Linked DNA regions of Homo sapiens: regions 2 and 3 are each linked to region 1. Evidence: fine-mapped expression QTL. A gene starts in region 1. Each other region holds a variant in brackets. All regions are shown on one strand. Distances are from middle to middle.

Region 1 (10,263 bases):
CCAGCTTCCAGATCCGAGACTATGTAGAGTCCCAGAAGAAGCGCTCCAGCTGCTGCTCCTTCATGTGAATCCCAGGGGGCAGAGAGGAGGCTCTGGAGGCACACAGGATGCAGCCTTCCCCCTCCCAGGCCTGGCTTATTCCAAGAGGCTGAGCCAATGGGGAGAAAGATGGAGGACTCACTGCACAGCCGCTTCCTAGCAGGGAGCTATACTCCAACTCCTACTTGAGTTCCTGCGGTCTCCCCGCATCCACAGGGAGGGTAAAACACTTAGCTTTTATTTTAATAGTACATAATTTAATACCAAAAAAGGCGCCTGGATCCCCAAAAAACCGAGGCTGGGAGCTAGTGGCCCTTTTGCTTTCTAGGACTTGGGGGGCCGGCCCTCCCTCCTAAGCATAACAAAGGTGGTGTTGCTCCAGCTCAGCCCCAGGGGACACAGATGCACTTTGGGGGTGAGGGCAGGTAATGACTCCATCGCACCCTCAGTTCAGCTGGACAGAGGCTCAGGTGACCCCAGCCTTCACTGTCTCCCGCTCTCCAGGAGCTTATCTTCGCCCCATCTCCCAAATAAGTGGGCCCTTGTGCTGTGAGGAAGACCAAAGCCTCAGGGAAGATAAGAGATATGGAGATGGGAGGGGGAGGACAAGGGGCAGAGAGTAGGGTCTAGCTGGCTATCTCTGGCCTTACTAACACCCCCCTGGAGGCATGCCCCTTTTCTCCAGCACACAAGCACATTGGGGCACCTGGAAATATTGGTTCCAGGCTCCTGTTCTCTGGACTTCAGATCCTGGGGGAGCCCCTCCCCCCCCTGAATCCCTGGCTTAGCTACCTTCCTGCCTGTGCACCTAAAAACCTCAGGTCAGAACTAGGAAAAGAGTTTTGTTTTTATTTTTTTGAAATGGAGTCTCGTTCTGTCGCCCAGGCTGAGGTGCAGTAGTGCAATCTCCGCTCACTACAACCTCCACTCCCTGGGGCTCAAGCGATCCTCCCACCTCAGCCGCCGAAGTAGCTGGGACTATAGGTGTGTACCATCACACCTGGCTAATTTTTGTATTTTTTGTAGACACAGGGTTTCGCCATGTTGCCCAGGCTGGTCTTGAATTCCTGAGCTCAAGCAACCTGCCGGCCTCGGCCTCCCAAAGTACTGGGATTACACGCAGAAGGCACCATGCCCAGGCTAGATGTGTCTTATCCCAATCCTTTGGCAGGCATGCAGCTCCACAGGCGATTTCTTCAAGCAGCTGAAGTGTTTAGCCCTCCTGGGTTAAGAGCCAGATAAGGAGAAATCCCTTTCCTAGGTTTGGAATGTGTTGTGAAAAAAAAGAGAAATCCCTGGCTCCTGGAGCTGGTGGGAGACAAGATTAAGCAAACCTCCCCTGACATGTATCCCTTTGACCCCAAGCTCTGCCTCCTCCCTGACCACCCATGCCCTTTCCTTTAACTTCTCAAACAGATACCAGGGCCTAAACTGCTTTACCTCCCCTCCTACTGAGTCAGGTTAGGTGGTGGGAGGTCACCCATTTCCGAGTTAAACCAATGCAATATGAGTAAAACAAAGTCATGTGGGTATGTCTGGGGTAGAGAGAGGGGTAGCAAGTTCATGTGTCCTCCTTGGTCACATATCTCCCAAAGCTCCGATCCCTGCCATGGGAAGTGGACAGGAAACATGAGGTCATGACCTGCAGGCATCTTTACTGCAGCTCTGCCGGCCTGGAGGGGGAGAGGGGGAGGAAGAAGTATGCGCTGCACATTTCTGAGGCTACTGCATTTGCTTTCAAGGCAGAAATCTTGCTCTGAGCAGTCAGCGGCTCCAGTTTGGGCCCGATAAGGAAGTTCTCCGTGGCCTCCCTCAGGCAGAGCAGGGAGGAGGCTGACATTGCCAGTCTCTTCTGGGGCCCAAGGCAGGTTGCAGGAGATCCAATCCCATAGACAGCTCTGGGCCTCTTGCATTTGAGTTTTTCAGAATTAAACTGCAGTATTTTGGAAAGCACATCCTGTCCACTGTTTCTTTGAAGTGAGTGGGGGGGGGGGGTCTTGTTGAAGGAATTGTCATTCACTGCCAAAATCATTCCATCCTCCTTCCTCAGTGTCTGTCCTCAGATGGTCAGCTCCCCGCTCAACAGACTGTCTCCCGCCTCTGTGACCAGCCTCTCTTTGGCAAGAGGGAGCTAGAAGGCTTTACAGTCCTAATCATTTTTCTGTTGGAAAAAAAAAAAAAAAACCAAGGCTCCTTTCCCTGTGGCGTGTACCCAGAGGTTGATTACCTGAGTCTGTCCTGCCTCTCCCCACCCCACCTCCCTAGCCAAACGCTGCTGCCAAAGCCCACGCTATTGCCCTAGATGGCCTGTCTTCAGCGGGCTGCCCCTCGAGGTCCCAGGCTCTCCGCGGAGCCCTCACCTTCCCAGCAGGGATCAGAACCTGCACTCCTCTATGCGAGTCCTGGGACAGCACAAAGTGGATTAGGGTTAGGGTTCCCACAAACGGAAAAATGTTATTCAAACAACTCTGTAGGGTCCGAGGAGGCCCTCCGTCTTAATTCTCGAGACTGACCGGCCCTCGCTGCCCCGAGCGGGAGCAGTTGCCCCGGCAACAGCCGCTCCCTCTCAACTGGAGCTGCACCCAGGCTTTGGCTAAAGGCTGTTAAAACGTTGGCCAGGTGCGGTGGCTCACGTCTGTAATCCCAGGGCGGATCACCTGAGGTCAGGAGTTTGAAACCATCCTGGCCAACATGGCGAAATTTCGTCTCTACTAAAAATACAAAAATTAGCGGGGCGTGGTGGTGCGCGCCTGTAACCCCAGCTGCTCGGGAGGCTGAGGCAGGGGAATCGCTTGAACCCGGGAGGCGGAGGTTGCAGTGATCCGAGATCGCGCCACGGCAGTCCAGCCTGGGCGACAGAGCGAGACTCCGTCTCAAAAAAAAAAAAAAAAGTTAGGGTCCTTTACCCGAGGGCCGGCTTTCCTCACTCCCCGCCACAGGTAGGGGAAACCAGGCCGGAGCCGGCGGGCCCACCCGCCCAGAACCGGGAATTCGGCGAGCCCCGCCCCTGCCACCCCAGCGCCGGCCGCTCGGTAACAAACACTTCCACTTCCTGAGCGCTAGTCTTCGCCCGCCGCGGGGCGCCGCGCCGAGCGCAGGCCCCGCCCCGCGCGTTCCCAATGGCCGGCGCCGTTCACCCGGCCGGAGCGCCCAGGCCTGCAGCCCCCTATTGGCCCGCGGAGGTCCCCACCCTCAGCGCGGCCCCGCCCCCGGGGTAAGGAGCCGGGGCGGACTCTGGGACGCTCAGACGCCGCGCGGGGCGGGGATTGGTCTGTGGTCCTCTCTCGGCTCCTCGCGGCTCGCGGCGGCCGACGGTTCCTGGGACACCTGCTTGCTTGGCCCGTCCGGCGGCTCAGGGCTTCTCTGCTGCGCTCCCGGTTCGCTGGACGGGAAGAAGGGCTGGGCCGTCCCGTCCCGTCCCCATCGGAACCCCAAGTCGCGCCGCTGACCCGTCGCAGGGCGAGATGAGCGCGGACGCAGCGGCCGGGGCGCCCCTGCCCCGGCTCTGCTGCCTGGAGAAGGGTCCGAACGGCTACGGCTTCCACCTGCACGGGGAGAAGGGCAAGTTGGGCCAGTACATCCGGCTGGTGGAGCCCGGCTCGCCGGCCGAGAAGGCGGGGCTGCTGGCGGGGGACCGGCTGGTGGAGGTGAACGGCGAAAACGTGGAGAAGGAGACCCACCAGCAGGTGGTGAGCCGCATCCGCGCCGCACTCAACGCCGTGCGCCTGCTGGTGGTCGACCCCGAGACGGACGAGCAGCTGCAGAAGCTCGGCGTCCAGGTCCGAGAGGAGCTGCTGCGCGCCCAGGAAGCGCCGGGGCAGGCCGAGCCGCCGGCCGCCGCCGAGGTGCAGGGGGCTGGCAACGAAAATGAGCCTCGCGAGGCCGACAAGAGCCACCCGGAGCAGGTAAGCGGGGCCCAAGCCGCGCAGGCTGGCATGGAGTGGGAGGAGGATCCGGAGAGACCCAGGTGCCCCGGCCGTCCAGCCCCGCGCCCGCCGTCGTTTTTCTGAAACTCGAGCTGCGAGGGGGAGACCGCTTCCGCCCGCCGACCAGGCGCCCTGACACATCCTAGGCAGGCCTGGGGCTGCGTCCCGCGACCTCCTCTCCTTCCCAGGCTGTGCTGGGAGCTTGAGCGCCTTTGCCGCCTGCACCTCTTGTTCCCTGGCCTTTGGGAGGGCGGCGCAGGGGAACCCAGCCCCCTTCCCTCGGGTCTGTGGGTGTCTGCTCCCGTTCCTCGGAATCCCCCAATCCTGCTCCTTCCCTGGTGCCCTCTCCTCGTTCACCCCAGTCCGCAGATGGGCCGGGGAGAAAGGGCTCTCCGCCCCAGAGGTGCCAGCTTCGCCCGCCACTCCTACTTCAAAAGCTAGAGGAATAGCATTACTCCTCCTGTGTGGAGCCCCGGCGCGAGGAGGCCCTCTCCGCAGCCCGCCGGTGTGTGTCCTGAACTTCAGTCCTGCTGGACTTCATCCTCCCGGAGTCCTGTGTGACTTCTAAGGGAGAGGAAGCCCCACCATCTCAGGGCGGTGTGGGGGTTGCCTGGCAGGGAGGAGGAGCCAAGGCATCTCGGAGTGGTGGTTCTGCCACCTCAGAGGATTTACGATTCTCAGGAATGTGAAGAGTAAGCGCCTAGAACTGTATCTGGGAGGGAAGGGGAAAGACCTTGGAAGAAGAAAAAGATGGCCATGGGGAGGAGAGAGAGCTCCTGGGGCTCACGGCCCTGTGTGCGCCAGCGGAGCTCACGGTGAGCCGGTGGTCTTGCCCTGGCCTTGCCATGGTCACTCTGGTGCCCACACAGCCAGCAGGCCGGTTGCTTTTTGCCCATGTTTGGTGTTTGCCCATGGGATCCCAGTTTGGATCAGCTGCAAGAGGGGCAGCTGGCAAAATAGGAGTTGTGCTGAGCCTCCTGTCCCCAGAGAGTGGAGTGGTGCATTGTGTAGGGCAGGGCGTGAGCCTCCCAGGACCCCTTCAGCTTGCACCACCAGCTCTCCCTGGTGGCAGTGTCTGATGGGAGTGTCCGTGGGGCTACGAGGAGCCTCCTGGACAGAGAAAGGGCACAGTTCGGCATTAAGGTAGAAGGCAAAGCCCTAGAGGATCAACTGGTTTGGTGGAAGTGAGGTCACCAGAAGCCCTGTCCAGCCAGAGCTGGGTGCTGGGAATGCCAGGGCCACCAGGCTCCCACTTCCTGCCCCTGCCAAGCTGGCATTGGCAAGGGGAGGGGGAAGGGATCTGAGCACCCGGAGCAAGGAGGTTGATGCCAGGGAGTTGGGGCCGATGATCTCCAGTCCCAGGCAGAAATCCAGTGTGAACTTTGTGCTGAGTCCATCGATCGATTTGACATTCTTTTTTTTTTTTTTTTTTGGACTTTGGCACCCACACAAATACCCACCCACCCCCACCCCCCACAAGTTGCAGTCTCGTTCAGCTCCTCCCTTTGCCCTTTTGGTTATGCTGCTGGGTGCCAGAGGGCCTGGGAGGCGAACGTGGAGGCCTGGCATAGCACACGTGCGCAAAGGCAGCAGCTTTGAGCTTCCTGGGTGAGCACAGACTCAGATTCCTGCATGTTTTGGAGGGACACCTACATTTGTGTGTACTTTGTTAGGCCAGGAGATGAGAGGAGAGCCACCAGCAAATCCTGGGGACACCATCACCAGCCAAGTCCCAGGACTTCTGAGTTCTGGTTCTCCCATCTGTGAGATGGAGGCATTGGGCGATGTGATGCCTGCCTTCTCTAGAATTATAGAAATGACGTGAAGCACTTGAGCCCCTTACTAAATGCTGAACTGCACTCCTTCATGCCTGGCGTTTGAATCCCAGCTCCTCTAAACTGACTCCTAGTCAACACCATTGAGTCCTTCTAGCAGAAAATCCTCTCCTCTCAATCCTGTGTGTTGAGCATACAGACACCCATGTGGTTATTAGAAAAAATGTTAACAGACATTGTAAGAGTTCGTTTTTCTAAAACACACCCGTTTCCTACATAAAGCATCAAATGGAGGTTTGCCAATTCGTTTTAGTCTGAATTTGTGTGCAAGGTGGGGCTGTTCCCTTGTCTTCATTAGCCCTCCACTTACTAAGTGATGATATCAGTGGAAAAGTGTGGCGCAGAGAGTGGTTGGCTGGGTGGCCTCTGGCTGGGAAGACCAGCTGTGTCCAGAACCACTCAGGGCAGAGGCTGAGGGGTGCCTGTAACACTGGCCATCCCCGCTGGGGAGTCTAGGCCTAAGGAGGTGGAAGTGGCTCTCCAGCTCTGCCCACCGGCTTTGCTTTGTGGATGGCCTTCCCCGCCTGCCCCGTGGGGAGAGAGGAGCAGCAAGACCCGCCCTGCTGTTCCCCTGCTTAAAGCCCTCCTCCCCCCATTCACCACCAGTCACAGGATGAGGCCTAAACCCTTGAGTCTGGGTTCAGAGTGCCGGCCGGGCAGAGCCGAGCCAGCTCAGCTGTACTAGCCAGGCTGTGCGAAGCCAAGTTACCTCACCTCTGTAAGCCTCCATTTCCTCTTGTGTAAGTTGGGGGTTATGGCAGCTACCTCGGAATTGCATGAGGCTGTGTGTAAAGCACGTAGCTCAGTGCCTGGCACTGAGTCCAGGCTCAGCCAGCCTTTGCAGTTGGTATTGGAATGAATACATATTTCATAGTGATCATTGCACACCTATCATGGGGCAGCTAGCGCTGGGTCAGCCTGCCTAGTTGGGCAAATGCCACTGTGGCCAAGCCTGGCACACAGTCAGTGCCTGATCGATGGTCACTGTGGGTTAAGAATGATACGTTGTGGCCAGGTGTGGTGGCTCACACCTGTAATCCCAGCACTTTGGGAGGCCAAAGTGGGAGGATCGCCTGAGCCCAGGAGTTTGAGACCAGCCTAGGCAACATGACAAGACCCTGTCTCTATTAAATTTTTTCTTTTTTTTTTTTAAGAGTTATATGCTGTTCCATGGCCCTTCTCCATCTGGCAGCCTGTTCTCACCACTGCCTCCCTACCCCCAAAACCACACCCAGGGTCCGAATTCCCCTCTAGCCTCTAAGCCTTCACACCCTGACACTTCTGTCCCCTCCCAGGGAGCCTGTCCTTAATCCAGTAGGCAGAGTTAGCATTTCCTTTCCTTCACTTTTTTTGTTTTTGTTTTTGTTTTTGTTTTTTTTGAGACAGATTCCACCCAGGCTGGAGTGGTGTCGCAACCTCGCCTCGCTGCAGCCTCGACCTCCAGGGCTCAATCGATCCTCCCACCTCATTCTCCCTAGTAGCTGGGACTACAGGCATGCACCACTATTCCCAGCTAATTTTTAAATTCTTTGTAGAGATGGAGTTTCACCGTGTTGCCCAGGCTGGTCTTGAACTCCTGGGCTGAGGTGATCTGCCAGCCTCGGCCTCCGCCTCCTCTTTGTCCTTACATCTTTTATCGCTCTAAACACACAATATTTTAATCATCTGTTTGTGACCTTTTTCTCCACTACGTGGTAAGCCCAAGGGCATCAACTGTGGCCTATTTGTGTTTCTATCCCCAGCGCTGTCCTTGGCACATGGTAGGGAGGCTCTCAAAAACAGTTTTTGAATTAATGAATGAATATATAACAACAGTCAGGGACCTTTGTCCTCATTCAGCTCATCCCGCCCCGCCCAGAGATTGGAATTCCAGATAGAACCTACCCACTCTTCTTTCTTGCCTGCTAGCAGCTTCTATTTGAAAACTAGAAAGCCAAAAGTCCAGGCTTTGGGGTCAGCCAGATCAGTGTTTGAATCCCAGCTCTGCCGTGTGCTGGTTCTGGGATCCTGGGAGTTCATTTTTCCCTGCAACCCTCAGCCTCCACCTCTGTGAAAGGCACTGCCTGCAGGGTTATTGGGAAGATTTGGTGGCATGACAGGTTTGTAAATGAAAGTGCTAGTTTGGGGTGTTTCCTGCCAGCCCTGACCCTGATCCCAGAGTCAGAGTGCAGGCACCCCAGGGAGCAAGGTGGGTGGTGGGGCACAGTTAGCTGGAGGGCCATCAACCTCTTTCCCAGGGCGGGCGGGCCATTTTACACCAACCAAGTTGGAGCTCTGGTAGGGCAGAACAGAGCTTGAGCTGCTGGGTGTTTGGATTTGAAATGGACAGGGTATGTGATTGTTTGTGTGTTGGGATCTCTTTCTTTGCTGGCAAAACAGTGTAGCCCCTGGTTCTTACCTTCAAGCTCCTGTTAACTCAGTAATTCTGGAGATGATTCTCTTGGAGATAGATGGGGGCTTCCTGGCCGGGCGCAGTGACTTGTGCCTGTAATCCCATCACTTCGGGAGGCTGAGGCGGGAGGATCGCTTAAGCCCAGGAGTTTGAGACCAGCCTGGGCAACATAGTGAGACCTCGTCTCTACCAAAAAAACAGGGGGAGGGGGGTGAATGGGGGCTTCCTTCTCAAGGAACTCCATATGTCTAGATGGGGTCCTTCTCCCCTTTCCCAGATGTCCCATCTCAATGGTCCCTGGGAAAGTGGGGTGGGAAATTAATAAGAAACTCAGGCCAGGCACGGTGGCTCACGCCTGTAATCCCAGCACTTTGGGAGGCCGAGGCGGGTGGATCAGTTGAGGTCAGGAGTTGAGGTCAGGAGTTCAAGACCAGCCTGGCCAACATGGTAAAAACCCATCTCTACTAAAAATACAAAAATTAGCGAGGCGTGGTGGCAGGTGCCTGTAATCCCAGCTACTCGGGAGTCTGAGGCAGGAGAATGGCTTGAACCTGGGAGGTGGAGGTTTCAGTGAGCCGAGATCGCGCCACTGCACTCCAGCCCGAGCAGCAGAGTGAGACTCATCTCCAAAATAAAAAAAAAAGAAAGAAGAAGCTCAGCCGAGGTCTTGTTGGTGCTGCAGGACTCTTTACAGGGAGAAACCAGAGCTCTAGACCCCAATAACAAATGTTCCTCTGTTTTCGTTGCTCTAAGATAGAGTGGCCCTACCTGGAAGGAAACAGGTTTGTACAGTGCCTTTAGGCACTCTACCTATGACATAAAGATGTTGACATGCATTTCTTTCTTTCTTTCTTTCTTTCTTTCTTTTTTTTTTTTTTTTTTTTCCTGAGACAGTCTTGCTCTGTTGCCCAGGCTGGAGTGCAGTGGTGTGATCTCGGCTCACTGCAACCTCCGTCTCTCAAGTTCAAGCAATTGTCCTGCCTCAGCCTTCCATGTAGCTAGGATTACAAACACCCGCCACCACACCCTGCTAATTTTTGTATTTTTAGTAGAGACGGAGTTTCACCACGGTGGCCAGGCTGGGTGGCACCTGTCACAACACCCTGCTAATTTTTGTATTTTTAGTAGAGATGGGGTTTCACCACATTGGCCAGGCTGGTTTCAAACTCCTGACCTCAGGTAATCCACCTGCCTCGGTCTCCCAAAGTGCTGGGATTATAGGCATGAGCCACCACACCCAGCCAATATGCATTTCATTGTCCCCCAGACAAATTAGCTATTGTTTTCTCTATTTTGTAGGTTGACAGTAAGTGTTCAATACATGATAGCTACTATTTGTGTCTAGCACTGTGCTAAGTACTAACCTTGCCTGTCTCATTTAATCCACATGACCACCAGTGAGGCAGATATTGGCCCCATTCTCTGCCTATGGAGGCTGAGGCTTGATCAGTTAAGGTGGCCATGGCGGGTCCCAGGACTCTGAGCTAGCGACTCCTCCCACACAGCGCAGGGGTGTGTCTTGGAACCCAACCCTCTGACTCTAGTGCCTGCACAGCCATTTGGCCACATGAGTAGGCTGTGCTTGAAGCCTGACTCTGCCAGGTGTTTCTGCCCATCATATTCTGAGCCACAGCTGGACCATCACAGTGGTATAAATTCAGGCTGCTTGAACTGGCTTCCTGTAAGGATCCAGGGCTTCCAGGTGCTCCTGTCCCTAGCAGGGCATCCTTGCAGTGCCTCAGCCCATAAGTGGCAGGCTCCTGTCCCCATCCCTTCTCACGTGATGTGATAGGTCAATCTGGAATCTGGTAACCAAGTATCTACCCCCGCCCTCACTCCCCAGAACCTGCACAGAGAGCCCCCCTCAAGGGTGGTCTTCACTGTTGACCGAAGCCTTCCCCTCATGGTAGGACAACTCACCATGTCCCCAGACTCCTAGGCAATGTTTAGGTCCCTAGGCCCTAGAAAAGGACAAGAGTTACAGATTCCCTGAGGTCCAGGTCACCTCGGGGTGGTGTGGGAACACACAGAGAATGCTGGCCAGGTTCAAGTCCCACTCACTGCTGGGTGC
Region 2 (10,564 bases), 180 kb before region 1:
TGAGGGATAGAGAAGAAGAGAGATATGTTAACCCAGGCAGGAACTGGCTCCCAGAAACAACTTCCTGAACAGATCCCTCAGCCACTGATGCCCGCAGGAACTCAGCTCTTGCTGGGAACAACCTCAAGGATGAAATACTCCTTTACAACCATCTTCACTCAAATTAAATATGATCACAAGAACAGCTCTTTTGCTTAAACGGCTTAACAATCTCAACCCCAAGGAGTGAACTCTCCAAGCTCAGCCCATGGCCAGTCGTCTCGCTCCGTGGGTCCCACTACACTGCTCCCATTCCAACTCCTCAGATGCTGCATTCTCTCCCCAAAATGGGCCGCTGTGCCATCTCTCCACCTTCCCAGCCCTCTACCTGCAGGGCTTGTCTGATGCCCTCCCTGATCCTCTCTAAGACGAGTCCCTGTAACAAACCCTGTTGGCGCCCTGCCCCATATCACCTTTGCCCACTTGAGCTCCTGGCAGCTGCAGGCAGTCTTGGCCCCACCAAGGATTTCCCAGCTCAAGCTCCCCATCTCTGCCTGAGGTTATCTACAAGAGTGCACACATTTTCCTGTGCAGAGCAGGCCAGATGGGCCACAGAATTCATGCCCCCAGGAGTGCCTGCTGCCTGGAAGACTCTGTCTCCAGTTCTGAGGAACGTTCTACACAGTCTCTCATAGGGTGCCCAGAGGGGTTAATCTCCAGTGACTCCAGTTACTACGGGGATAACCCCTTCATTACAGCACATTTCACCGCCCTTCCCCTTTCCTGGTCTCACTTTCTGCTCTCTCAATGTACTTCTTGAGATTACCTCTCAATAAACAAATTGCTCCTAAGTCCTTGTCTCAGGACCTGATTTGGGGGAAACCCAAACTAAGACAGTCCCTTTGTTCTTTGTTTCTGTGGAACATCTTGTATTTCCTTGATAGCCCAAATCATGCCCCACCAGCTTCCCACACACTCTGGCACCCTATCTCTTTACACCTGCTTTATTTTCCTCCACAGTAATTATCATTCGTTGACATATTTCCTTGATCTATCGTCTCTCTGTCTCTATTACATATCTCTCTCTGCCAGCTATCATCTCCATCTGTCTTTCCAGTCAGCCAGCCAGCCATCTCTATCATCTTTCATATCATATCTATCATCTGTCTGTTTATCTATCTATCCACCTATCTATCTATCTATCTATCTATCTATCTATCCATCTATCTGTCTGTCCACCTGTCTGTCTGTCTATCTATCTATCCATCTGGCCATTGCCTGAATCTACCTATTTGCAACTTCCTCAAGAGCACAATCTTGCCCCTTTGTTCACTGTTGCATCTCTAGAATCTCCATCAGTTTCTGGCGCATAACAAATAAACACCTGTTGGCCGAGCACGGTGGCTCACACCTGTAATCCCAGCACTTTGGGAGGCCGAGGCGGGCAGATCACGAGGTCAGGAGATCGAGACCATCCTGGCTAACATGGTGAAACCCCCGTCTCTACTAAAAATACAAAAAAAAAAATTAGCCGGGCCTAGTGGCGGGCGCCTGTAGTCCCAGCTACTCAGGAGGCTGAGGCAGGAGAATGGCGTGAACCCGGGAGGCGGAGTTTGCAGTGAGCCGAGATCGTGCCACTGCAGTCCAGCCTCGGCGATAGAGCTAGACTCTGTCTCAAAAAATAAATAAATAAATAAATGTTGAGTGGGTGAATAATCAAGGAAACCTGTGTCTAGGAAGCCCCACCCTAGGAAAGAAGCTGCACACATGGCAAAAGACACTGGGACACGTGCATTTTACCCTTGGCATTGGCTGGGCCTGGTGGGAGATGCAGGTGTCTTCACAGAGTTCTCAGTACTGGAGGCTGAGGATAAAGAACAGAGGTTCAGTGCCCTACGCCTGACTCTTCCCAGCTGAGTACCTGGTACCTGCATGGTTCTGACTTCATAAAGCAGAGGACGCTCAAGGAGGCAGCTGGACAGATGTTCTAGGACCATCGTCTTCCAATAGGCAGACCAAAGCCTGACTGGAGTAACAGAGCATCCCCCCAACCCCATCCCAATGGATGCCCTGCTCTGGGGCCGGGTGGGCATTTTATAAACCCAGACCAGAGGATGACCACCTTCTCCCATGTTGGTGTCCCCCATCTCGCTGAAAATCAACATGCCGAAGGTTAGGCTTAGGTTCCAAAACCCCCATCCTTGCCAGTGTATCCACACACCACCACTACCCTCCAGCACACACTCTCTGTCTCACACACACTCTCACACCTGCACACACACTCTCACATGTGCACTCACGCAACTTCACAAATACACTCACACGCCCACTCACTCACACACGCCTGCTCTCACACACACTCTCACATGCACACTCACACACCTGCTCTCACACACACACCTGCTCTCACACACACTCACACACACCTGCTCTCACACACACCCACACACCAGCTCTTGCACACACTCACACACTTGCTCTCACACACACTCACACACTCACACACCTGCTCTCACACACACTCCCACACTCACTCACACCTGCTCTCACACACTCACACTCACACACACTTGCTCCCTCACACACTCACACACACTCACACACACCTGCTCTCTCACACATTCACACACACCTGCTTTCACACACACCTTCACACCTGCACTCACTCTCACATGTTTGCACACAACTCACAGTCACACACTGAAACACACTTACACTGTCCCACTCATTCAAACACACATGTATTTCCCACACACATTCACACAACATACTCTGTCCTGAGTCTCTGATGCACCACACTAGGCCCAGTTCTTCTCTCCTGGGCCAAAATTTCTGTGGCTGCTCTGCAGAGATGGCCTCAGATGCCTGAGAAAAGAGGCTCTTACCCGATGAGACCAGCACTTGAACCTGGAAGAAGGGATCGGGCAGGAAACCAGACAGGCCATCTTCCTGCAGTATTGTTGCAATCCCACATCGGTATTTTCCTGCATCGTCTGCCGTGAGGTTCTCCAAGGTCACGGTGAAGGTGAGGTCTCCAGGATGGTCCGTGATGATCACTTGGTCACTCCTCACCACTCCCTCAGACCCTCCGGTCTCCACCATTTCATGCCAAATTGGCAAGCATGGTTGTCTGCACCAGTATTTGTTAAACGTCTTGTATTTCTCTTCATACCGACACTGAACACTCAGGGATTCCCCCACGGCGCCCATCACGGTGCTGGGGCCACTCACAGTCAGACAGCCTGGAAAACACAAGTCCGTTTCCCCGTCTTCACCTGGAAGAGTCTGGACCAGTGGAACCTTGAGTGTCAGGTCCTCTGCACGCCCAGTGTTGCCTGAGGCTGGAGGAGGGAGGAGTCGGGAACCAGGGAGCTATGGGCTATTTGCAGGGGGAGACCCAAGGAGATGCCCGGTGTGGGATCCTGAGACTCCAGAGGCCATGCCAGCCTGGGTGTGCTCAGCCATCTTATAATATCAGGGGGAGAGGCTTGACCTCGGTGGCCTCAGACAGGTTCTGGGTCCCCCAGAAGTGTCAGTCCTGAGAAGAAACACCTGTCCTCATCGAACACCAATGATTGAATGAAGCCACTAAGTACACTCTGAATAAATGGATGGCTGGAGAGATAGATGGATGGATGGATGGATGGATGGATGGATGGATGGACGGATGGATGAAATAGGAAAGGAAATAATATTGAGAACCAGGAAAAACCAGAAGCAGCCCAGTATGGAGGGCAAGGAGGAAGCCTGGGGCTTCTGGTTCTGCCCCTTTCCCAAATCATCTGTGGGCCTCATACTTGCCATCCCTGCCCATATAGATGAGGCCTCCTGCTCCCAGGTCTGGGTCACAGAGAATATGGGGGCTGCCCATGGGGATATCAAGGGGCCATGTAGAAAGGAGTTGTTCTTGTGATTCAAGGACATTTACGCCTGGAATTTTCCCCCGGGACAGAATCCTGCAGCAACACTCGCCATTGCCTAACATCTGCAGGGCTCCGCTCCACAGGGACACCCATCAGAGCTTCCTTCCCACCCCCAATTCTCTGCAGCACCCACCCGCCTTGGCATGTCCTGGGCCTCTTCTCCAGGTCCTCTGCCCCCTCCAATATTTCGACATTACTCTCCCTCTTCGAGTCCCCTCTCTCATTCCTCCACCCACTCTGCAGGCTCCGGGTCCAAATGATTGGGACCCAGCCCCATCAACTCTCTGCTTCCTGCCTCGGGGGCCTCACCAGTCCTAAACAGCTGCTGTCTCATCTGCTCTTGACAGGGAGGTGGTTAACTCAGGACAAAACGGCTATTGAGAAATGGTTTTGGCAAAATACCAAGCTCCTGAAAAGGAATTGTGGATGTAATCTGTCTACCTATCAACTATCTATCTATCTATCTATCTATCTATCTATCTATCTATCTACTATCTATCCATCCATCCATCTTTCATCTACCCACCCATCCATCTAGGTAATATATTGCCATCCACTGATGGAGAGGCTTTGCTATATTTTTATTGTGAATTAAAAGAAAAATCTGGCCAGGTGTGGTGGCTCATGCCGATAATCCCAGCACTTTGGGAGGCCGAGGCAGGTGGATCACCTGAGGTCAGGAGTTTGAGACCAGCCTAACCAACACGATGAAACCCTGTCCCTATCGAAAATACAAAAAATTAGCCGGGCGTGGTGGTGGGTGCCTGTAATCCAGCTACTCAGGAGGCTGAGGGAGGAGAATCACTTGAACCCAGGAGGTGGAGGTTGCAGTGAGCCGAGATCGCACCACTGCACTCCAGCCTGGGCGACAGAGTGAGACTCTGTCTCAAAAAAAAAACAGGAAAACTTTATCTTTTGCATCTTCATTTTCTTATCTCACGTTTTCTCACTTTATTTCCCAGAAAGCAGGCTCGAGTGGCCCACTGACCTATTCTGCATTAGAAAGCTGTCTGCCTCTCTGAAGCAGTGATTCTCACCTGGGGGGCAGGGGGGCGGGGAGGGGGCGGGGGGGCAGGGGGGCGGGCGGGAGAACATTTGGTAATGACTACAGATATTTTTGGTTGTCCCAACTTAGGGTGGGGAATTGCTGCTGGCATCTGGTGGGTAGAGGCCAGGGATGCTTCTAAACATCTTACAATGCACAGGACAGCCCCCAACACACAGAATAACGCAGCCCCAAATGTCCACAGTGTTGAGGTCCACGAGCTTTCCCAGGGAGCTAACTGCCTGCCAGGCACAGGCTTAGGAGCAAGGAAGGGGTGGGCACACCCAGTCCTCTCCTGAAATCGCTGCTGCTCTCAGCTCAGGCTCTGGGGGCGCTGTTAGCCTGCTCTTTCAGGTCCTTAAACTTCTCTCTTAATGATTTGGGGCTAATTCCACAAGGAGCAAAAACATTGTGGGGCACACACTGAATCCCACCACAGAGCCTCCCTCTCCTTGGATATTCAGTCCAGACCCTGACTCTGAGCCAACATGGGCAGCCTCCTCCACCTCCACCCCCACCATCTTTTACGGAGCTTCCCGCCTACCCAGCCTTGCAAAGAAACTGACTTTCTCCCTCCACCATCATTTACGGAAACTCTCGGACCAGGGCTGACCACAGGTTCCCAGCTGTCTCACCCTTCTGGGGGCCCATTAAGTAGCAGCCCTGGGGCCAGCCCAGACCTGTGGGGACACCCAGGGTTCCCACGTGGGGATGCAGCATATGCCTCCAGATATGTAAGTGAAGCTTTACAAGGAGGCGCAGCAGACATTGACATTGAATTAGAGAAGGAGCAATGATCTTGGAAATAAAAGTATTTAGGTTTGGACCTTGACTGTGCCTTTTATAAACTGTTTAATCTAAATTATTTGCACCTCTAAGAGCGAGCTTCGGTCTCTTGTTTTCATCAGGATTGCAATAAGAATTAAATGAGATAGTGGGAAACAAGATATGTATTACAGTGATTAGCCTAGTAAGTACTGGTTTTCTGTCCCCTATTCCCCCTTCTCTCTGATGGATCGTGGTGGCATTCCTGATCTTAATAATGACGGTAATAATGATTAAAGTTGCCAAATCTACTTAGGGCTTACTGTGTGGGAAGCAGTTTACCGTTTAATCCCCACCCTATCCCGATAAGGAGATTTGAGAAGCTTCTATGCACACCTCACTCCCTCTTTCTTGATATCATTTCTTCCTCTTGCCCCTCGCCAGCCTTTTCTCATGCCTGCCTCACCCTGACCCGCCAGAGCAGACCTCCCTGCACCCAGGACCTGCCCTGCTCATCTGGGACACAGAGAAGGAGCAGAGCTGAAGGCAGCATGGCAGCCCCAGCCCTCTGGGTCATCTCACCAGCATGGAAGTCCCTTGTGGCAGCAGGGTCTGAGGCTCTTTTTCCTTCTCACATCTCTCGTTTCCTTCTCTGGCCTCTTCTGGGTTTGGTTCTCAGAGCTGGTGAGAGTATGGAGGAAGCTGGGGCCATGGGGCACTATGTGGTCAGGTGAAACAATTTTGAGAACTTGCTGAAGTTCTTCCTAATAAAACATGTTT[G/A]CATTTGCTGTTCCTCTTTCTGTTCCCAGTAAAGACAATGTCCCTCCCATTACCCACAGCTGACAGGCCTGCCCTTCTCCAAATCACAGCATGGCCCAGGACCAGTGAGACTGGGCCAGCTGCCATCTGGATTTTCTGGGCAGGTCCTCCCCTCTGTGAATGGCCAGTTTTCTGTGGCCAGCATGAGCCGCCCCAGGGTATGGCTCAGCCTTCACTGGATGGATGAGACTGGCTATTTGCAGAGCCCAGTGTAAAATCAAACCTAGGTTTCCAAAATTATTAAGAATTTCAAGATGGTGACAGCCAAGCATGAAACGTGGGACCCTTCTAAGAGCCGGGCCTGCGAGACTGCACAGGGTAGGGGCACACCCACGATGCCCGCTGGTCTATCTCTGATCCTTGGTGGTACAGATAGGCTGGGTGCAACCTCAGAGGCTCTGACCTCTTAACCCCTCACTCTTGCTCTGACCTCAGCAGACCCCAGAGGTCCCTGTCTTGGCCACGTGCCTGACTGTTTCCACAGACCTGGCACCACGCAGAGCTTGGTGGACCATCTATAAGCCTTGCTTTTGACCTGTGTGGCTCTTCCTGTCGCCCAAGATGACCACATATAAGAGTTTCAATATATCAAGAGCTAACTCGGGGGAACCTGGCCAGAAGTGTGCCTGATATACACAGAATGGCTGTGGAGGATTTATAAATGCAAGCACAGCTTCAGAAGGCCTCACTCAGGGACTTAGATTTCTGGAACTAGGAGACTCCAAATTCCTGGCATTCTGTTATCAAATGTCTCCTCCTTGGTGTTTCAGTAAATGTGTTTCCTGCTTGTTCATTTTTTGCTGCATGTGGAGTCCTCATATTTCTGTGTGTGTTCACATGTGTGTATATGGGTGTGGTATGAGGGATATATGTGTAGTGTGTGTGGTGTGGGTAGTGTGTGTAGTATGTGTGGTATGTGTGTATGTAGGTACATGTGATGTATGTGCATGGTGTGTGGGATGGTGTGTGTGTAGTGTGTGTGTATGTGTGGTGTGAGTGGTGTGTGTGAGATGTGTGTAGTGTGTGTGTATGTGTGTGGTGTTTGGGGTCGTGTGTGTGGTGTGAGTGGTGTGTGTGGTGTGGGTGGGATGTGTGTAGTGTGTGTATGTGTGTACATGTGGTGTATGTGTGTGATGTGTGGGGTGGGGTGCATGTAGTGTGTGTGTTTGCATGTGTGTGTGGTGTGTGTGCACAGGTGGTGTGTGTGTAGTGTGTATGTGTGTGCACGTGTGTGGTGTGAGATGTGTGTACATGTGGTGTATATGTACAGTATGTGGGGTAGGGTGTGTGTAATGTGTGTGTGGTGTGTGTGATGTGAGTGGTGTGTATGAGATGAGATGTGTGTAGTGTGTATGTGTGTACGTGTGTGTGGTGTGTTGGGTGGTGTGTGTAGTGTGTATATGTGTGCATGTGTGGGAGTGTATGTGGTGTGTGCGTGTCCATGTGTGGTGTACGTGTGTGGTATGTGGGGTGGTGTGTGGTGTATGTGTGTGGTATGTGGGGTGATGTGTGTAGTGTATGTATGTGTGTGCATGTGTGGGCGTGGAGGGTGTGGGTGGTGTGTGTGTACATGTGGTGTATGTGTGTGGTGTGTGTATGTGTGTGCATGTGTGGGGGGTGTGGGTGGTGTGTGTCTACATGTGGCGTATGTGTGTGGTGTGTGGGGTGGTGTGTGCATGTGTGGGCGTGGGGAGGTGTATGGGTGTGTGTGTGTGTACATGTGGTGTATATGTGTGGTGTGTGGGTTGGTGCGTGCATGTGTGTGGAGGGGAAGCAGGAGCTGGGAGTGATAAAGATGTCTCCCCTTGCAGCCTGCAGAGCCGGTTGCGAGCCCCGCCCTCTGTGCCTAGCTCTGGGCGCTAAGGAAAGGCTTGCCTGGCCCTCCCTGACTCTGCGTCAAGGGCTGCTCAACGTGCCTTTCTTGGGAAGAAGGGATCTGAGTCTGTGAAGGAGATGACGCACAGCTGCAGACTTTTCCAGAAAACATTCTCGCCATCCTTGTCTGGACAAACCACCGGGTGCACAGGGTTGTATTAGTCAGCTCTTTCTGGCTCACATTGCCATAGCAAAACTCCTAATCCCAGCATGCTGTAACCACAGAAGCTTGTTTCTCGCTCGTCTATACGCAAGCGGTGAGTCAGCATTGCTTGGGCACCAGGCTGCGGAGCCCAGTCCGCTAGAGGAGAGGGAAGGCACCGGGTGGCTCTCTGAGCCTCTGCTCAGAAGGCGCACATGCGGCTCCTGCTCACCGTTCATCGTCATAGGGTCAAGCCTGAAGTCAGTGGGAAGGAGAAGCACAGTCCTCTTACAGGACAAGGCGGCAAGTCACTGACCACAACCACAGAACCCACTACTGGAGGTTCCCTAACCGGGCTGGAAGGGTGCCCCGCAGCACACCGACTCCGTGCTTCTCGCTCATCCAAGGTCGGGGCAGGGAGAGGCTGCAGGGTCTGCTTAGAAACAGCCTGTGTGTGTTTCATTTTTTTAGCTAGGACCAGACAGTTTGCCAAATGCAAAGGACATGGCAATGCCACAGGGAACCCACCTTTGAAGCAGATGTACTCTGGGCCCTGGAGTCCCCCAGGAGATGACAAATTCCTTGAAGAGATGACCCACATCTGGGACATCCAGGCTTTTTCCATGTCAAGGCCAGCATCTGGAGCCGCTGTCCCTTCCCCAGCAGGCCCTTGTCCTTCTGTCTCTGAAACCTGTCCTGGAAAATGCTGTCCGCTCCAGGAGGGCAGAGCTAGGGGAGGACTGAGAATAATGAACACTGGCCATGAGGCACAGGAGGGCGGGGAGCCCGGGGCCCTGCCTGGCACTGCACCACACTGAGACCCCCACCATCGCTGCCCTTGAGGGACAGCTCTTGGGGCTTCCAGAAAGTTAAGATCTCATCAGTGAGGGGTGCGTTCTTAGGGCAAACTCGGGGCATGTGATGTGTAGGACAGTGTGAGTAGCCCACACATTTCTCTCTGCCTTTCGGGGCTGTGCTTGTCTTTCTGCTTCCTCGAAAACCGTCATCCTCCCTTCTCACTCTCCCAGGATGAGCTCAGACCACACCTCTCCTGGAAGGCATCCCTGCCTGCTCCAGGCCTTCCAGACCCCTCCCTCTGGGGTTCCTGTTACCTGCAATGCTTATTTCTGTATTTAATCTCATGTCCCTGTGCTGTCATTGTCCTGTTGCATGGCATCCATTTCCAGGTGAGGCTGTAGCCTCCACAAAGGCAGGACCAATCTGGGCACCCGGAGACGCAGACAGAGCTCGGCCCCAGCCTTGTGAGCTGAATTGGAGGGTGAGAGCTCCGATCCTTCCATATTTTCCAGGGGAGGGGATCAGGAATGTATTAAGGCATTGGGCCTCTCTTCTCTCACCTCTACTACCCGACGTCAATCCATTTGGGGAGTAGTTCTCAGTATCTTGTGCATCATGGTGAGAATGGGCAAGTGCCCAAGGATGGTGGACCCCACTGCCCACTTTCTTCCCTCCCCACTGGCACTCAAGGGAGACGTCACCAAGAGGGCAGCCTCCTGACCGGCTCTGGGCAATGGATGCCTCTTTGGGATCTTGTTACAAATACAGGGCTCTCTAGGGAGCAGGGTGTGGGGAGGGTCTTCCCAACATGGGGGCTGGGGTGCTATAGGGAGCCCGGCTCAGAGAGGGTCTCTACCTGACTCTGATGATGTGGGCCATGTAGCACAGTGAGGAAGGTTCTGGCCATAAGCTGGGAGCCCTGGCTCAGATTTTAAGGTCTGCTGTTCACTAGTTATATGACTTTAGGCAAATCAGCAAAAGTCTCTTAGCATCAGTCTCCTCATCTGTGAAATAGGAATAAAAATATTCACCCTGCTCAGTCCCAGGAGTTGAGCAAAGGCATTTGAAGGTGGTGGCATCCCTCTGGGAAACTTTCCTCTTTTGATCTTCTACGTACCATGCACTCTGTATATTTAAATCCTGCATACCCATCCCAACACCCCTGCCAGGTCACTTTTAAATAAGATGACTGGAGCTGGAAAGACGAACTAAACTGTC
Region 3 (8,000 bases), 140 kb after region 1:
CTGCAGGTGATGACCCCGGCATCCAATGCAATGATTTTGTGTGTGTTTCTCTTAGAAGCATCTGCTCGTTAATAACACTGAGCACTCTCAGCCCGGAGCAGCAGCCAGGAGGGGCTACAGGAGTGGTCTGAGAGAGCAGGGACACCATCCCCTGACCAGTCCACAAGGTGGGGGCGGTGCCCTGGTGGGGGCCAAGAGCTTCTCCCTAGAGGTGACTCTTCTGCAGTATGGATCCCCAGTGGGATTCTCGGAAGCCGCTCTGAGCAGCAGCACGTGCGCTCTGACTCCTAGGAGAGTAGTCAGTCTGGAATGCAAAAGCCACGCTAAGGTGTTTCTTAAGCAGATACATGCAAATGGTATGCAGATGTAAGCCTCTTCCGATATTTTATCTAGGACAGAAGATGTGGCTAATTTTATTGAAGATGCTGCCTGTTTCTGGAACGACGTGAAAAGTTTCCCAATACCAGTCACTGCAAGCCAGGAAAGGACAGCGGAACACCCCCGCAGAGGGCTCACTGCACCAGGCTCAGCGCCCTTCACTCGCACACTTCCTGAGGGCGGTGGCGGATGACCACATGCTGCTGAGTTAGTTGGAAAATGGATGGTCCTGCTGAAAAAGATTATTTATTTTATTTTTATTCTGTTTTGAGATGGAGTCTCGCTCTGTTGCCCAGGCTTGAGTGCAGTGGTGAACCTCTGCCTCATGGGTTCTTGGTTCATTGCAACCTCCGCCTCCTGGGTTCTCCTGCCCCAGCCTCCCGAGTAGCTGGGATTACAGATGCCCACCACCATGCCTGGCTAATTTTTGTATTTTTAGTAGAGACAGGGTTTCACCATGTTGGCCAGGCTAGTCTCGAACTCCTGGCTTCATGTGATCCACCCACCTCGGCCTCCCAAAGTGCTAGGAACACAGGTGTGAGCCACTGCGCCCAGCCCCATTTGTTCTTTCATGCAGTTGTTTGTTCACATAAGCATTGTCGGACCCCCAGTGGTGCCCAGCACCATGCTAGGCCTGTGGGGTTCCCAGGGCCTTGTCCCTGGGAAAAGGAAGAGAATGCCATCAGCCCCATTTGATGGGCTCATTGCCGACTGTACGGGACCCACTCCCATCAGGATAAGGTGCTCTCGAGGACTATTCTTGCTGTGGCCCTCACCAGGGTCCCTCTCTCATCCCAAAGGTGTCTAAAACATGGCTGCATTCACACAGATCCTGCCCCAGAGCCAGCCCGAAGAGTTCCCTGAGGACTTGCACCTGGAGACTTGTACGCTCCCTGAGCAAGACTGACAGGTGTAGCAAATGAAAATACAGGATGCCCTCTTAATTCTGAATTTCAGATAAACAAAAAATACGTGGAATATTTGGGATATACTTATACAAAAATATTGGTTGTCTGAAATTCAAATTCATCAATGTGTGTTAGGCCATTCTTGCATTGCTAAAGAAATACCTGAGGCTGGGTAGTTTGTAAAGAATAGAGGTTTCACGGGCTCAGCGTTCTGCAGGCTGCACAGGAAGCTTGGTAGGGAGGCCTCAGGACGCTTGCAATCATGGCAGATCACAATCGTGACAACCGTGGCAGAAGTCCACAGGGAAGGGGAAGAGGGAGCAGGCAGTGACATGATGAAAGCAGGAGCAGCGAGACGGGGATAGGGGTGCCACACACTTTTCAATGACCAGATCCTTTTTCTTTTTTTTTCCGAGTCTTGCTCTCTTGCCCAGGCTGGAGTGCAATGGTGCGATCTCGGCTCACTGCAACCTCCACCTCCCGGGTTCAAGCGATTCTCCTGCCTCAGCCTCCTGAGTAGCTGGGATTATAGTCACACGCCACCACACCCAGCTAACTTTTTATATTTTTAGTAGAGACGGAGTTTCGCCACGTTGGCCAGACTGGTCTCGAACTCCTGAACTCAAGTTATCCACCCGCCTCGGCCTCCCAAAATGCTGGGAATACAGCGTGAGCCACTGCGCCCAGCCTAAATGACCAGATCTTTTGAGAACTCACCGTCACTCTCACCAAGACAACACCAAGGGGATACTGCCAAACCATTCATGAGAAACCCCTCCATGATCCAGTCACCTCCCACCAGGCCCCACCTCCTCCTCACTGTGCAGTAGCAGCAGCAGCTGGCCACTGGGGTTACTGCCTTTGTTGGCAAACTTGGGTTTATCTGCCTGTAGACAAGTCTCTCTCACACCAACAGAACTACCAGTACTTCCAAAACCAACTCACCTGATCTGCAACTCAAAGGCATTTTTTTAAGAAAACCACAAAAAAAAAAAATAAATAAATAAATATTACATTTCATCCTGAGATTTAGGTGGGACAAACATCAAAATCATATCACTGGACTTTTTGTATTTTACCTAGAAAACCTACTACTGAGGTCCATGGAGCCCCAGAAGCCCCCAGCATTCTGAAGCCAGATGTGAAGGGGCTGCTCATGCTGTGGGAGCCAGCAAGAGTCTGGAGAGAGGAACGGAAGCTACGCAGATCCAGCCCGGAAGCCCTCCTGCCAGACCAACGCTGCCCCTCTGACGACCCTCAATCCCTCTTTCTCATCCTGGTCATTCCTGCTGCCCACCACTCCTGCACCTCTTCCTTCTCCCCACAGATACCACCCAGACAACCACCACCTACACCCTCCTCCTTGAACCCCATCCCTGCCCGTCTGTCCTTACCATCTCTCAGCCTGCCCATGCCAACACCTTCGTCCCATCTTCTGCCTTGTCTGCCTCAAATCCAGTAGAGTGACACAGTTAAAACCCAAAACTGCATCATAATTTCATAATTATGGTCTTAATCCTGTAGTGTACTGTTTGTTTAAAAACTAAATGAGGGGCCAGGCGTGGTAGCTTATGCCTGTAATCCCAGCACTTTAGGTGGCCAAGGCAGGCAGATCACTTGAGGTCAAGAGTTCAAGACCAGCCAGGCGCAGTGGCTCACGCCTGTAATCTCAGCACTTTGGGAGGCCGAGGCGGGCGGATCACGAGATCAGGAGATCGAGACCATCCTGGCTAACACAGTGAAACCCCGTTTCTACTAAAAATACAAAAAATTAGCTGGGCGTGGTGGCGGGCGCCTGTAGTCCCAGCTACTTGGGAGGCTGAGGCAGGAGAATGTCATGAACCTGGGAGGTGGAGCTTGCAGTGAGCGGAGATCCCGCCACTGCACTCCAGCCTGGGCAACAGAGCGAGATTCCATCT[C/CA]AAAAAAAAAAAAAAAAAAGAGTTCAAGACCAGCCTGGCCAACATGGGGAAACCCCTACTAAAAATACAAAAATTAGCAGAGCGTGGTGGTGCACGCCTGTACTCCCAGCTACTTGGGAGGCTGAGGTAAGAGAATCACTGAAACCCACGAGGTGGAGGCTGCAGTGAGCCGAGATTGTGCCACTGCACTCCAGCCTGGGCAATACAGTGAAATCCTGTCTAAAAAAAAAAAAAAAAAAAAAAAAACTAAAAGAGGAAAATATTAGAGAAGAACATAGAAGAAGAGACTGATAACCTCCAGCCATCATCTTCCAGGAGGAAATGGGACATCTGCAGAAAGGGGTAGGACAAAGACCTCTCCCGATGCTTTTTGAATTCTGAATCATGTAAACACATTACCTATTTGAAAAATAAGTTAGTTTTGAAAACTACCAACTTAGATTACCACCTTTGGCCACAAGACCAAGTTCCAGGTCCTCTGCCTGCCATACGCCCCCTTTCCCCTCTCCAGGGTCCCCATTGGATTCTGGTGACCCCTGATTCCTGAGGGTCCCTCATGCACTGTACTGCTTCCCACAGCCTTTGTCCATACATTTGTTCTGTCTGAAGCCACCTTCCTGCTCCTTAGTTTGGCCAACTCTGTCCTGATAGCATCTCCCCTGGAAACCGTCCCTGGAGTTTCTCAGCCCTGCATGATTCACATTTGGGACTCGGGCACTTTTTGTGTCAGGGACTGTCCTGTGCACTGTACGACATTTAGCAATGTCCCTGGCCTCTACACACTAGATGCCAGTAGCATGCACACGCACACACACTCCAGTCTTTTTTTTTTTTTTTTTTTGAGACAGACTTTTACTCTGTTGCCCAGGCTGGAGTATGGAGTATATGGAGTATAGTGATAAAATCTTGGCTCACAGAAGGCTTGAACTCCCAGGCTCAAGCAATCCTCCTGCCTCAGCATCCAGCCTCCCAAGTAGCTTGGACTACAGGTGCACACCGCCACATCCAGCTAATTTTAGTTTTGTTTTGTAGAGACAGGCTCTCGCTGTGTTGCCCAGGCTGGTCTCAAACTCCTGGGCTCAAGCGATCCTCCTGCCTTGGCCTCCCAAGGTGGTGGGAACCACTGGGCCTGGCCCACACCCCCATCTTGATAGCCAAAAATATCTCCAGACACTGTCCAATGTCCCTGCCCTGCTCTTCCCACCCTGAGCTCTCAGAGCTTTCACTCCACCCTGGTCAATGCCCTCATCACATTCTGCCTGCCCCAGTCACCTACCAGCTGGCGTGGCATTGCACAAGTGGCTTAAACTCCCAGATCAGTGTTTTCTCATCTACAAAGTGAGGGTAACAGTAGCTTAACCCCCATAGGGAGGTGCGACTCTGAAATGAGGTGATTTACAAAAAGGATGCAGGAAGCAGCCAGTAAGCCTTAGCTAGTGTGATCAGGATTTATTATTAATTATTTTTAAGATGGAGTCTTGCTCTCTCACCAGGCTGGAGTGCAGTGGCACAATCTCAGCTCACCACAACCTCCGCCTCCCGGGTTCAAGCAATTCCCCTGCCTCAGCCTCCTGAGTAGCTGGGACTACAGGCGTGTGCCACCACGCCCGGCTACCTTTTTTCATATTTTAGTACAGACGGGGTTTCACCATGTTGGCCAGGATGGTCTCTATCTCCTGACCTCGTGATCCACCCTCCTCGGCCTCCCAAAGTGCTGGGATTACAGGCGTGAGCCACTGCGCCCAGCCAGGGTTTTTTATTATTTTGATGTCATTTGTATGTGTCTTTTTTGCACTTGACTCTGAGTCCCTGGGGAAGTGGAACGGGGTCTTATTCACAGTTATGTCCCCAGCATCTACTGGAGCATGGTGTAGGTGGAGCTGAGACACCACACACACACACACACACACACACACACGCGCGCGCGCGCGCGCGCAGAGTACCAATGTCCGTTTCCTTGGTTTTGATATTGAATGACACTTAGATAAATGTAACTATTGCGTGAAATTGGATGAAGGCTACACCAGACCTCTCTGTCCTATTTTTGCAAGGCCTGTGAATCTATAATTATTTTAAAAATAAAAAAGCTTTTACAAAAGTATATTTTGTACTGCAAATCTGAGTTTTCTCTCCAAATAAATACTAAAAATTAAAAAAATAAGAAGTTGTAGTTGAACTTAGGCAACAGCTCTCGAGGTTTGCGTGGGAACAGGCAGAGAGAAGGTTGGAGAGACGGCCTGGAGGGTAATGGTCACACTGAACGCCTGTGAGGAGAGAACGTTCCAGGATCACGACTTAGGCGGGGGTTCCTGGCCCTGTTTCCACCCCCACAAGAGCCCTGAAGGAAGCCGATGACATTCTCCTACAAGGTGCCCTTCCCCCAGGGCAGAGCTCCGGTCCAGCAGCTGTGGCTCCAAGCCTGCAGCACAAAGCCGACTTCACATGGAGGATTTGAAGCGGAGACACCAGAGCTTCGGAACTGGCAGGGCCTGTTCCCTCCCACTCAGGGGAGCATCTTGGATTGTGAGTGACATGCAGGAGAGTCCTTTCAGGAGTTAATCTTTCCCAAGCTTCGGGGCTTAAATTACGGGGGCCTGCCCATCCCACACTGCCCCCAACCTTCCCGTGGCCATCTGAGCATGGTACAGTGCCCTTCATTGGCAGTCCCTGAGAATACGCCTGGCAGTCCCCATGGTGACCCAGGACAGGGCTGGGCAGGTACTCTCGCTGGGTAAGACCAAGGTTATCAGTGGCAGGAGAGAAGGTCAGGGTTAGGCTACCAGGAGGGATAGAACTTTCCTATGTGGAACACAAATGGGTCTTCGGAGGTTGGATACTTTAGGAGAGAAACAACAGCCTGGAGTGGAAGCCTCCCCCTCCAACCTGTTTGCCCCTCCCCCAGATCCAATGGCCCAGCTTGGAGCTGGTAAACCCTGAGACAATCCCAGCAAAAGCTGGGCACCTGGGACCGCCAATGATACTCAGTTAATGCCTGAGGCTGCAGCATTTGCCAAACACCAAAAGGAGCCCAGGGCCTATGGCTGCATTATTCTGCAATGAAGATGTCTCCTGAGCGTCAAGGTTTGGGAAAAGCACAGATATCCCACAAGGAAGGATCCTAAGAGAGAAGGCACCAAGACATGGGAGGAGAGTCAGAAATCCAGGAAGGGTCTTGGGGCATCCTCTGAGGTCCTAGGCATCAAGAACGTGTCCTCTGCACCCTGCAGAGGCCCAGATGACACAGCACCCAACGCCCCAACATATACACAGCCCTGTTGAGCTTTGCAAACTTGCAGTTAAAAAAACAACAAAAACAAAACAAACAAACAAACCAAAAAAAAAAAAAGGCCGGGTACAGTGGCTCACGCCTGTAATCCCAGCACTTTGGGAGGCCGAGGTGGGTGGCTCACCTGAGCTCAGGAGTTCAAGACCAGCCTGGCCAACATGGTGAAACCCTGTCTCTACAAAAATACAAAAAAAAAAATTAGCTGGACATGGTGGCGGGTGCCTATAATCCCAGCTATTAGGGAGGCTGAGGCGGGAGAATCACTTGAACCCTGGAGGTGAAGGTTGCAGTGAGCCGAGACTGCATCATTGCACTGAAGCCTGGGCAACAGAGTGAGACTCAGTCTCAAAAAAAAAAAAAAAAAAAAAAAAAGACAAAGCAAACAACTGCTAACCCTTTCCTTGCAGCTGACCACATTAACTCCAGAGAAAGAAAGTGAAGATCATACTGGTGGAGGGTGTCAGGACCAGGCCCTCCATTAAGGTCTGCACTGTTTCATTTTATCCACATGCTGGCCTCATGAGGGAGGTCGTGTTATTTCTCCTGTTTATTAGGTGAGGAAAGTGACACTTAGATGTTGAATTAAGTAACTTGCTCAAGGTCAGGGCAGCCAGTGGGGCTGGGAGTTCAACCATGGCTTCAAAGGCTGGTCTTGAACTCCTGACTTCAAGTGATCCTTCCACCTCGGCCTCCCAAAGTGCTGGGATTACAGGCGTGAGCCCCACTGTCCTCGCCGCCACCCTGTGTGGCAGACAAGACCAGCACCCTCCTCCAGCAGTGCACTTGCCTCACCAATGTCAGCCAGACTGGGGAGACTGGTCTGCCCCTTCCCCCACACTTGGAACTGGACCCTCCCCAGAGGGTAGCTGGAGGGCACCTGTGGGATGAAAAAATCAAGACGCATCCCACGTAGGTCAGTCGGAGGCTTGAGTAATAAACTACTCGGGCCCTGTTCCTCAGCCCACTGCAGTCCACCAGGCAGGTGTCACGACATGAAGCGGGAGCCAAGCCTTTCCTCCCCAGCTTCGAGGGGGCTTGCAGGCCTGAACCTGGTTCCCTAGACAACTGCAGGGTCATCGTCAGCAAATATTGATGGAAGAATATTGCCAAGAGCTCAAGTCTGTGCCAGGAGCTGAAGAGTCAAAGAGGCAAAGATGAAGCCACTGGGCTTACGGGGACAAGACAGCATTCACAAGCAGAATGCAGCACTGAGGCTATCTGGGTATCTCAAGCGTGCTGGGTTTCCGGTGGAGCGCTCCAGTAGAGAAGCCCAGGAAGGCTTCTCAGAGGAGGCGTCCTTGGCCTCCTGCATTCATTTGGCACACATGATAGCTATGGTGTGGGTGTAACACTTTGGTGGGTATCAGATTCACCTGTGGAACTTGGTAAAAACACAGTGGCCCGAGTCCTCTTCTCCAGCAAGCCTGGGCCTCCAGATCATTCTGCTACACACCGAAGTTTGAGAACCACTAGGTTACCTCTGTGCAATAAATGCCTTGCAGCCAAGCA

The links. PIP is the estimated chance that this variant, and not a neighbour inherited with it, causes the effect.
Region 2: its variant is fine-mapped to the expression of NHERF1 in whole blood (TOPMed, PIP above 0.99).
Region 3: its variant is fine-mapped to the expression of NHERF1 in whole blood (INTERVAL, PIP 0.96).

Annotation. Positions count from the first base shown.
Region 1 is chr17:74,745,344-74,755,606 of GRCh38, forward strand. NHERF1 (NHERF family PDZ scaffold protein 1) reads left to right here and starts at 3,285. Exons shown (of 6, transcript NM_004252.5): 1 at 3,285-3,944. The coding sequence starts at 3,504. It overlaps RAB37 (RAB37, member RAS oncogene family), which reads left to right. Exons shown (of 9, transcript NM_001006638.3): 9 at 1-1,992. The coding sequence ends at 68. It overlaps SLC9A3R1-AS1 (SLC9A3R1 antisense RNA 1), which reads right to left and starts at 4,524. Exons shown (of 3, transcript NR_187307.1): 1 at 3,720-4,524; 2 at 3,230-3,584; 3 at 257-2,200. It overlaps MIR3615 (microRNA 3615), which reads left to right and starts at 3,270; the gene lies at 3,270-3,356. RefSeq lists enhancers at 1,839-2,434, 3,723-4,348, 5,840-6,381 and a silencer at 2,829-3,518.
Region 2 is chr17:74,561,055-74,571,618 of GRCh38, forward strand. CD300H (CD300H molecule (gene/pseudogene)) reads right to left here and starts at 6,455. Exons shown (of 4, transcript NM_001405511.1): 1 at 6,295-6,455; 2 at 2,865-3,221; 3 at 1,780-1,843. The coding sequence starts at 3,189. RefSeq lists enhancers at 7,802-8,532, 8,533-9,262. The variant G/A (reference allele first, on the strand shown) is at 6,493.
Region 3 is chr17:74,883,033-74,891,032 of GRCh38, forward strand. All of the region lies in intron 2 of FADS6 (fatty acid desaturase 6), which reads right to left. Among named protein-coding and RNA genes, the nearest start is that of FADS6, 6.6 kb to the right of the region's middle. The variant C/CA (reference allele first, on the strand shown) is at 3,206.